Homo sapiens: one gene and its partners. The protein of the gene in region 2 interacts with the protein of the main gene of each other region in a biochemical or structural test. Each region holds a gene or a part of one and is shown on either strand. Other genes may lie near its edges.

Region 1 (3,657 bases), on a different chromosome or scaffold from region 2:
CTCCCTCTTCCCCCAGGCCTGGCCTTCAAGGGCCCAGGCTGGCCCTGGCTTGAGGTCTGCACACACAACGGGCCTCTCGAAGCAGCGGACAGACACTTGTTGGCTGCCAACTTGGGCCCAGACTGTGGTCACAAACACACCCCTCTGGCTGAGAACAGGATCAGGACATTTCTGCAAACCCCTGACCTAGTAGAAGAAATGTTCTAGGAGGCAGGTTGGGGTTGCTGAGGCTCAGCTGAGCCCCCAACTTAGGCCAGGGAAGTAAGGCTCTAGCTGACACCTGGAGTTTGCTGGTAATGCTTGTTCTCCCAGGACATCCTCAGGGGATTCACTATCCACTGAGCTGGAAAAATATCCAGTTGCCTTGCCAAGTTCACATCCAAAGGACAGGCCATCCTTCCATGGCCCCTTGGAGGCGTCCTCAGTAATGGGATGTGAGTGGGGAAATGTTGAACAATGTGGTCAGTGATTCAACTCCGGGGAAACCTAGGCCCAGAGAGGGTCCCAGGAACCCTGGCTGCTCCAGACTGGTGCAACTGCCAGGCCCAGACCTTCTCCACTCCCCAAAGTCTCAAGGACCAGCCACAGCCCAGCATCCTCCTATCCTTCAGACCTCTCTGATCACTCTTGCCATTCAGAGATTCCTGACTCCAGTGCCTTCCACCACTCCTCCTCCCCTCTTTGTGCTATCTTGAGTGGAATGACCTCCTTCCATGAGATCTTGGGCCAGGAGAATAGGTCGAAAAAGACTTCAACTAAGGAAAAGTGGGGAAAAACATGAAGGCCACATTCTTCTTTCTCTTACCCAGGCCATAGGCAGGGTTCACCAAGGAATGATCTCGTCCTGTGAAACATCTCAGAGAATATAAGAGCAGGGGCCCCTCAGTCCTGGGATGATACACATGTTACTTCTCTACTGCATCTGTAGTAGACATTGCTAATCAATTCCAGCTCCTTTCTGCTGAGCCCAGACAAAGCCTCCCAATCCTTCCAAATATGGAACTCACAGAACCACCAGTGGAGCTGACGCTTACACTCTTTTTTTTTTTTTTCCTACAGAGATGAAATCTCACTGTGTTGCCCAAGCTGGTCTCGAACTCCTGGGCTCAAGTGATCTGCCCACCTAAGCCTCCCAAAGTGTTGGGATTACAGGCGTAAGCCACCACGCCTGCCTGGAGCTGCCACTCTAAATAAAAGCTATTGATCACCTCTGATCTAGCCTAACTTCAATAGGAAAACTGAGTCCCCTAGAAGGCAAGGGTCTTACCCAAGGCCAAACAGAGATTTATTGCAGAGCAGACAGGATTTCAGGCACCAGCTTTTTTTTTTTTTTTTTTTTTTTTTTTGAGATGGATTCTTGCTCTTGTCGCCCAGGCTGGAGTGCAGCGGCACAATCACGGCTCACTGCAACCTCCGCCTCCCGTGTTCAAGATTTTCCTACCTCAGCCTCCTGAGTAGCTGGGATTACAGGCACGCGCCACCATGGCTCAGCTAATTTTTGTATTTTTAGTAGAGACGGGGTTTCGCCATGTTGGCCAGGCTGGTCTCAAACTCCTGGCCTCAGGTGATCCACCCGCCTCAGCCTCCCAAAGTGCTGGGATTACAGGCGTGAGTCACAGCACCTAGCCACCGGCTTTTAAAGAGTTTCTGTAGGCCAGGCATGGTGGCTCACGTCTGTAATCCCAGCACTTTGGGAGGCCCAGGCAGGCAGATCACTGAGGCCGGGAGTTCGAGACCAGCCTGGCCAACATGGCAAAACCCTGTCTCTACTAAAAATACAAAAATTAACCAGGCCGTGGTGGTGCACACCTGTAATTCCAGCTACAGAACTGAGGCAGAGAATCGCTTGAACCTGGGAGAAGGAGGTTGCAGTAAGCTGAGATCGCACTACTGCACTCCAGCCTGGGCAACAGAGTGAGACCCTGCCTCAAGAAAAAAACACAGTTTGTGTAGAGGAGATAGTGTTTATGTTTTGTCTACCCTACCACATGGTGAGCTCCTTCAGGAGAGGCCCTGGGTGTAGTTTAGCTTCTGACCTTAATATACACAGCAGGCACACAGTAGATGTCCATGAATGTCTCTTGGCTTAGTGAGGAGGAATGCATGACATGAGTTAGAGGGAAGGCTTGAGTATTCACTCCTAAAGTCAGAAGATGCTTCAAGGTCACACATTTACAGATACTACCTTCTCAAAACGACATACATGGGAACCCAGATAGATACATTTTTAATCTAAAGATGAGGAGGTGGGCCGGGCGCGGTGGCTCACGCGTGTAATCCCAGCACTTTGGGAGGCCGGGGCGGGCAGATCACAAGGTCAGGAGATCGAGACCATCCTGGCTAACACGGTGAAACCACATCTCTACTAATAATACAAAAAATTAGCCAGGCGTGGTGGCGGGCACCTGTAGTCCCAGCTACTTGGGAGGCTGAGCAGGAGAATGGCGTGAACCCGGGAGGCGGAGCTTGCAGTGAGCCGAGATCCCGCCACTGCACTCCAACCTGGGTGACAGAGCAAGACTCTGTCTCAAAAATATAAATAAATAAAAATAAAAAATAAAGATGAGGAGGTGAGGGGACCTCCGTGTGAATGTGGATTTGAATTGTGTCTATAGCAGAAATTTTACCATAGACTAAACTTTCAAACAACAGAAGCTAAAAGAGCTTTCAAGTCAACTAAAATATGACATTTCGATGAATGTCAGTGGTTTCAAACCGCATTGCTGACTATAAATATCAAAGTAATGAGGCATGTGGGGAAAGTCTCTTATATCCATATCATTTATGTGGCATTCTATTATTTAACTTTGCCATTAAAATATGATTGATACACTTAAGCTTCTAAGGATCAACACTCTAGAGTCAGCTTTTTTTAAGTATCAAAAAAATGCATCTAGACTGGGCACTGTGGCCTGCAATCCCAGCACTTTGGGAGACTTAGGTGGGAGGATCCCTTAAGCCCAGGAGTTGGAGACCAGCCCAGGCAACATGGTGAAACCCTGTCTCTACAAAAAATTGGCTAGGTGTGGTGGCTCACGCCTGTAATCCCAGCACTTTGGGAGGCCGAGGCAGGCAGATCACGAGGTCAGGAGTTCGAGACCAGCCTGGCCAATATGGTGAAACCCTGTCTCTACTAAAAATACAAAAAAAAAATTAGCCAGGCGTGGTAGTGCGCACCTGTAGTCCCAGCTACTCGGAAGGCTAAGGCAGAAGAATCGCTTGAACCTGGAAGGCGGAGGATGCAGTGAGCCAAGATCGCGCCACTGCTCCAGCCTGGGCGACAGAGTAAGACTCCATCTCAAAAAAAAAAAAAAAAAAAAGCTAGGCGCAGGGGCTCACACCTGTAATCCCAGCACTTTTGGAGGCTGAGGCAGGTGGATCACAAGCTCAGGAGTTTGAGACCAGCCTGGCCAATATGGTGAAACCTCATCTCTACTAAAAATAAAAAAATTAGCCGGGCATGGTGGTGGGTGCCTGTAATCCCAGCTACTCAGGAGGCGGAGGCAGAAGAATTGCTTGAACCCGGGAGACGGAGGTTGCAGTGAGCCGAGATCATGCCACTGCACTCCAGCCTGGGCAACAGAGTGAGACTCCATCTCAGAAAAAAAAAAAAATTAACCAGGTGTGGTGGCATGCATCTGTAGTCCCAGCCACTCA
Region 2 (3,657 bases):
ACCAGTTGATTTGATTAGGCCCCACTCCATCCTTGTTGTAACTTAGCCTCCTCTTTCAAGACCTTTCTCCAAATGCAGTCACATTCTGAGATACTGGGGGCTAGGACTTCAGTGTAAAAATTTGGCAGTGGGTGTGGACATAATTCAGCCCATAAATTATATTAAAGACAAATTAGCATCCAGGCGCGGTGGCTCACACCAATAATCCCAGCACTTTGGGAGGCCAAGGTGGGCAGATCACTTGAGGTCAGGAGTTCGAGACCAGCCTGGTCAAGATGGTGAAACCTCGTCTTTGCTAAAAATACAAAAATTAGCCAGGCGTGGTGGAGGGCGCCTGTAATCTCAGCTACTCGGGAGGCTGAGATAGGAGAATCACTTGAACCTGGGAGGCAGAGGTTGCAGTGAGCCGCGATTGCGCCACTGCACTCCTGCCTGCACAACACAGCAAGACTCTGTCTCAAAAAGAAGAAAAAAACAAAACAAAAACAGGACAAATTAGTGTCCCCCAGAGACCTTCTCCATGGTGTTTCGTGTTTTGAGAATCTGACAGTGCCTCAGATTACTTGGTGTCAGATTCCTGGGGACCTGGGATAAAGTTGCCAGGTAAAATACAGGATGCCCAGTTACATTTGAATTTTGGATAAACAACAAATCGTTTTTCAATATTTATACCCCCACATGGTGTCCATTGTTTATCTGAAATTCAGATTTAACTGGGGATTCTGTATTTTTATTTGCTAAGTTTGGCAACCCTAATCTGGGAAGAAAATACAAGAATTTGTCCCTACAGATATTTATTATCTAGCAAATGAGAAAGCCGGCTTTGCTTGTATGATGTTAGACATAGAGCAGCAGTGATATAGGCACGTAATTTATAAATAAAGTTAATGGTGTAGGTACCGTTTTTTTTTCTTTTTACTGATGGAGGTGCATGATCAGAAAGTTTGGGGCTTTGCCATGAGTCAAAAATTGTTGTATCTGAGTGATGGATATGAGGGAGTTAGAAACTTTCAAAATAAAAAATGAAAACAAAAAAGTTTGGGGTACTGCTAGCCAGCCTCAGCAGTCAGTCCCGAGCTGGGGAGTGGCACAGCTGTGTGCCTACAGGAGGAGAAAGGGCGCAGGGAGGCAGAGTGGAGGCTACAGGCTTTCTGTGTCCCCAGGCGCCTGGCCAGGTCCACTCTCCTGCTGATCCCCCTCTTTGGCATCCACTACATCGTCTTCGCCTTCTCCCCAGAGGACGCTATGGAGATCCAGCTGTTTTTTGAACTAGCCCTTGGCTCATTCCAGGTAAGTTTCCAGGACTGGGGCTGCCAGCTGAAAAGAGGAGTTCTCTGTGTCCTTAGGGAGAAGTGGAGGGCATAGAGACTGCGAGCCAGATGCCTTATCTGGCAGAGACCCAGGGGAAGAAGGGGTCGGACCTGACAGTGCTACAGGTCCCTGAGTGGGATCCCTGGTCCCCACCAGTCAAATGGGGGTGGGAGATAAAACTAAGAGAGACAGAGAGACTGACTTCAGGGAAAATAAAAAGGAAAAGTAGCCCCAGTACACTATATTGTACAACTCTCAATAACATATACATGGTCAAAATAACGTAAGCGCGGATGGCCAAGTCATCAAACACTGGGGCGGGAAGATGAGCCTCGCGGGAGCGTGGGGCGGGTGTTTGGAAGAGAACACTGTCCTCATCTTCACACTGGGAAGTCCATAGAAAATGCCCTAGACTGAAAACTCCTCAAGTGGCGACACCAGCATATTTTTTAGAAGCAGTTAAGAGAGTTTCAAGGAGCAGTCGCATGTGAGGAAAAGGAAGTGAGGGTGGGGTGTCAGGAGGCTGCTGGTTCTGTAACAGGAATCCTTTGATTCTCTGAAACCATGTGCATATGCAAATTATTAAAACTAAAAACTGACTTTAAAAAATAAAGTGAGGTGGAAAAGCGCTTACCTACTAATTCCACAAGATGCTGTGAACTTAAAAACAACAACAGTAAACGTGTTTGGGCAGAGGGAGCCTGAACGTGAATCCCAAACTTCACAATGCCGTTTGTTTATTTACTCATAGCTATTTCCTTCCAAAAATAATGCAATGTCGCTTTTGGGAAAAACATACAAAGGACAAAAAATAAGTCGATGAAGGATCAGTGAAAAAAAGAATGTACAACTGGTTGGGTTGCTACACAGAAACAAATACGATAAAGTTCTATACAGGAGGGAGAGATGGGTCATAAGTATGATAGGGAGCTTCCCAGTAGCCAAAGCAAAGACAAAACAATTGTTTCAAAATTTCGCATATCCATAAGACAAAATCAAACTAACGGCCGGGAGAAGCCAGTGATTATAGGCTCTAGGCCTGAGACAAAATTCTCCCAGTAGTTTTTTTTAAAGGACTTAGTCCTTAACGACATTTCCACGGTAGGGCGATATTGTCCAGCCAAGCTTTCACTGGGGTGGCCTCGGCCTGCGAGCAGGGGTTCAAACCCTCCCCTCATCCCTAGAGCTCTGTTCAGGGTAGGGTCTTCCTGTTACTTACAGGTTCTAGGGAGGATGCCTCACTGGGGACACATCACTGAGTGGAGTCAGGTCTTGCCCTACCCATACCTTCAGACCACACCCTCCCCTAAGCTGGCCCTCTACCCAGTAACCCGTCAGTGCCCCAGACCTCCAGAGAACTCAGCCTCTGGCTTAATCCAGGATTCTTTTCCTCTCGGCCTGGGGGCCAGGGAGCTAGCTTTCCTCACCACTGCTCTTGTAACGTCCAGGGAGGCTGGGCACACAATGGCCCATCTAGCAGGTAGAGGATTTGAGGACCAGTCGGGTGGAAGGACTTGACCTGGCTCAGAAAAGGGACCATGCTGAGAGCTTGGACCCGGGTCTGCCTGGCCATGGATGGGGACTTCCTGTCCCTCAGAGTTGGGGCTAATGGTTGGGACTGTGGACTACTTCTCTAGGAAAATGTCTTGCCAAGAGAAAATCAAAAGCACTTTCCTGATGTTCTCATACGAATGTTGATGAAGAAAAAGGATCTTTTAAAGTTTTATACATATATATGTATATATATTCGTACGAATATATGTATATATATTCGTACGAATATATGTATATATATTCGTACGAATATATGTGTATATTCGTACGAATATATGTATATATATTCGTACGAATATATGTGTATATATATTCGTACGAATATATGTGTATATATATTCGTACGAATATATGTGTATATATATTCGTACGAATATATGTGTATATATATTCGTACGTATATATGTGTATATATATTCGTACGTATATATGTGTATATATATTCGTACGTATATATGTGTATATATATTCGTACGTATATATGTGTATATATATTCGTACGTATATATGTGTATATATATTCGTACGTATATATGTGTATATATATTCGTACGTATATATGTGTATATATATTCGTACGTATATATGTGTATATATATTCGTACGTATATATGTGTATATATATTCGTACGTATATATGTGTATATATATTCGTACGTATATATGTGTATATATATACGTACGTATATATGTGTATATATATACGTACGTATATATGTGTATATATATACGTACGTATATATATGTGTATATTCATACGTATATGGGTATATATATTCATACGTATATGTG
Region 3 (2,558 bases), on a different chromosome or scaffold from region 2:
TTTCTGTACAGTTCCTCAACTCTTCTCCTAGGGAGAGGCGTGAATTCTGGGGAGAAGCACAATTTGGATCGAGCTGTTGTTTTATCAGGAGAATTTTCTTCTGGGCTGAGAGTCTGAAGAGAGACAACTACACATAAAAGGAGAATCAAAGAAAGCAGAAATATTGGAATTGCCACCCAACCAGGGGGACAGAGCCCAGTTGAGTTAGGCTGGGATTGAAGCAGCCTGCCCCAGAGACTCACTGGGAAAGAATGCCCTTCAGCAATTCTCCATATCTTTACCTCAAAATCTCCCTGGAGCAGGGCATCATTGTTTATGTACAGTAGCAAATGGTAAGTAGTAATATCTTCAGGCCTGTCATGGATAAAAATACTATCCTTTTAATTCCAGTTTACAAAAATAGGAGTAATATTCAAAACAATGATTGTCTACTTTTCTATTTATTTTTATAAAAACATAAACAGCTCGGGCGAATTTTCAATCCTTGTGCACGCTTTGTATGAACTTCTCTCTATACTTTATATATATATATATATATATATATATATATATTCTTTATATATATTTATAATATATATCAATAATTGGTCCACAAAGTATATCTGTGCATTCTCTAGTGCTTTGTAGAAAGAAAAACAATATTATTATCAAAATATTCATTTAATGGCTTTACTTCATTACATAAATACATGTTTGGATAGAACACACGAGCGATGACTGTTGAGTCAGTTTGGAAAACGACTTTTCATTGCGTCAGGGCTGTATACACAGGGTAGCTGGTAACCCATCGCTACAAATAAGCTATTCGGCGTCCTTTGTTTTTAACCCTTTGTTTATACCTCTTCCCTAGGACGGCCGCCAAGTATTTCTTGACAGCCATTTGTTTCCGGTAGCGGCTGTAGCTGTCCGTGAAGATCCCGTCCGAGTGGCGCTTGGAGAGCGGCTCCGCGTCGTCCCCCGCGCCGCCGCCGAGGCTCCCACTGCAAGCAAAGGGGTCGGGAAGAGGGTGGCGGGGCGGGAGACACAGGTTCAATCGCCGCGGGGAGCAGGCGGGCCCCACCCCACGCGGGAGCCTTCGGGGAGGGCCCGGGGCTCGCACTGCCCACCGCGTCGCCCGCCTCTGCCTGGAAGCAGCCGTGGGGAGGGCCGAGACGGCAGCCCCTCGATGCCCCCCTCCCCACGCAGGATCTCCTGGCACCAAACCCTGCGGAGGGGGCCCGGGATAAGATCCGGGCAGGCGACGCGCGCTTCAAGCCTAACCTTTCTCCCAGCGCTGCCCCCTTGAGATCCGACCCTTCGTGTGTTTGCGCTAAATTGTCCTCGCTGTTCCTCTCACCCGCGACATACAGAGAAAGTAACCGGAGAGCCCTACATATGCCAGTCTGGCTGCTGCCCTGGAGTTTGCATCGATCCTGCAATTCCTAGTCAAATATGAACACTCCTCTCCCTCCTCACGCCGAGTTGAAAAACGTGATAATAATATAAGTCGACAGGCTGTAGGCAATATTTTTCACTGCATGACTTATTCATGGCGAAAATGTAATCTGTTTTCCCACGGGCTTTATTAGAATGTTGCCTTCTGCCGAGATAGGCTTCACACAAGCCCTGTGCTCTCAGTTTCTCTGGCGTGAGCAAAACTGTTTGGGTCCATAAGTGTCCACATTTGGCCATTTATTATTTCGATTTGAATTTTCAGTAAATACAACCACCCCTTTCCCCTCCCCCAGAAACAGTCATGCTTAGAGAAAATTATAGCAAAACCTCCCTGGAAGCCTGAAGGTTTTGGATGACTGAGAGGTTTGGTTTGGTTTCTCTTTCTTTTCATTCAAAACGGATCAAACTCCCTGGCTCGCGTTCCCTTTTTGCCTCTTCCAGAGCTCTCTGGGCAAATTTAAAGTGCCACTTCAAAATCTCCAACTGCGACCCGTGGCGGATGCCCACCCCAGACCCAGGGGCGCAGACTCACCCTGGCCCCCACGGGCACCCACCGCCGCCCGCCCCGCGCGCCCCGCACAGGCACCCACCCCGGCGCGCGCAGGTTAATCCTTCCACAAACTCTTACCCCACGCCCCGGGCCACGAGCGACTGCAGGTGCTTCCCGGCGGACAGCTGGTCCAGCACTTTGCGGTAGGCCTCGTTAAGGATCCCGTGGGCGACATCTCTAACGGGGAGGCAAAGTGCGCGCCCAGGGTCACTGTTTCTGTCCCCAGGTGGCCGCTAGAGACCCCCTTGTTGGGCGCGCGCCCCCTCGGCGGCCGGGGAGGCTGACAGGGAAACCTCCAGAGGCCCAGAACTCGCCAATAACTCCCGGGATGATCTCGAGAGCAACTGCTAGGATCGGGAGCTAGTCCCGGCTCTAGGAGTGGCAGATGCGGAGTGTGGGTTCCTTGACGCCACTCACTGCCACTCTTTGGGCCACAGCCCCCCTCGGTCCCCACGCGGCCCTCAGGTCCACACAGACCCGCCCGCTGCTGATTTTCTGTCGCTGCAATAGGATCGGGCCAGGGAGAGGACAGGCTTGAGGACTTTCACGGGAAAAAAAAAAAAATCCTGGGTGG

Evidence for each region.
Region 1: the proteins of SCTR (region 2) and SNTA1 interact in a test that uses a peptide from one of them, tested with the Homo sapiens proteins (one study listed by BioGRID).
Region 3: the proteins of SCTR (region 2) and ADCYAP1 interact in a test that uses a peptide from one of them, tested with the Homo sapiens proteins (one study listed by BioGRID).

What each region holds. Positions count from the first base shown.
Region 1 is NC_000020.11:33,433,664-33,437,320, forward strand, and holds part of SNTA1 (alpha-1-syntrophin), read right to left. Parts: intron 1-3,657. UniProt on the Homo sapiens protein: Adapter protein that binds to and probably organizes the subcellular localization of a variety of membrane proteins. May link various receptors to the actin cytoskeleton and the extracellular matrix via the dystrophin glycoprotein complex.
Region 2 is NC_000002.12:119,444,392-119,448,048, reverse strand, and holds part of SCTR (secretin receptor precursor), read left to right. Parts: intron 1-1,163; coding exon 1,164-1,290; intron 1,291-3,657.
Region 3 is NC_000018.10:907,868-910,425, reverse strand, and holds part of ADCYAP1 (pituitary adenylate cyclase-activating polypeptide preproprotein), read right to left. Parts: intron 2,162-2,558; coding exon 2,063-2,161; intron 1,882-2,062; coding exon of another isoform or gene 1,836-1,881; exon of another isoform or gene 994-1,835; intron 981-993; coding exon 791-980; 3' UTR 1-790. UniProt on the Homo sapiens protein: PACAP is a neuropeptide involved in diverse array of physiological processes through activating the PACAP subfamily of class B1 G protein-coupled receptors: VIP receptor 1 (VIPR1), VIP receptor 2 (VIPR2), and PACAP type I receptor (ADCYAP1R1).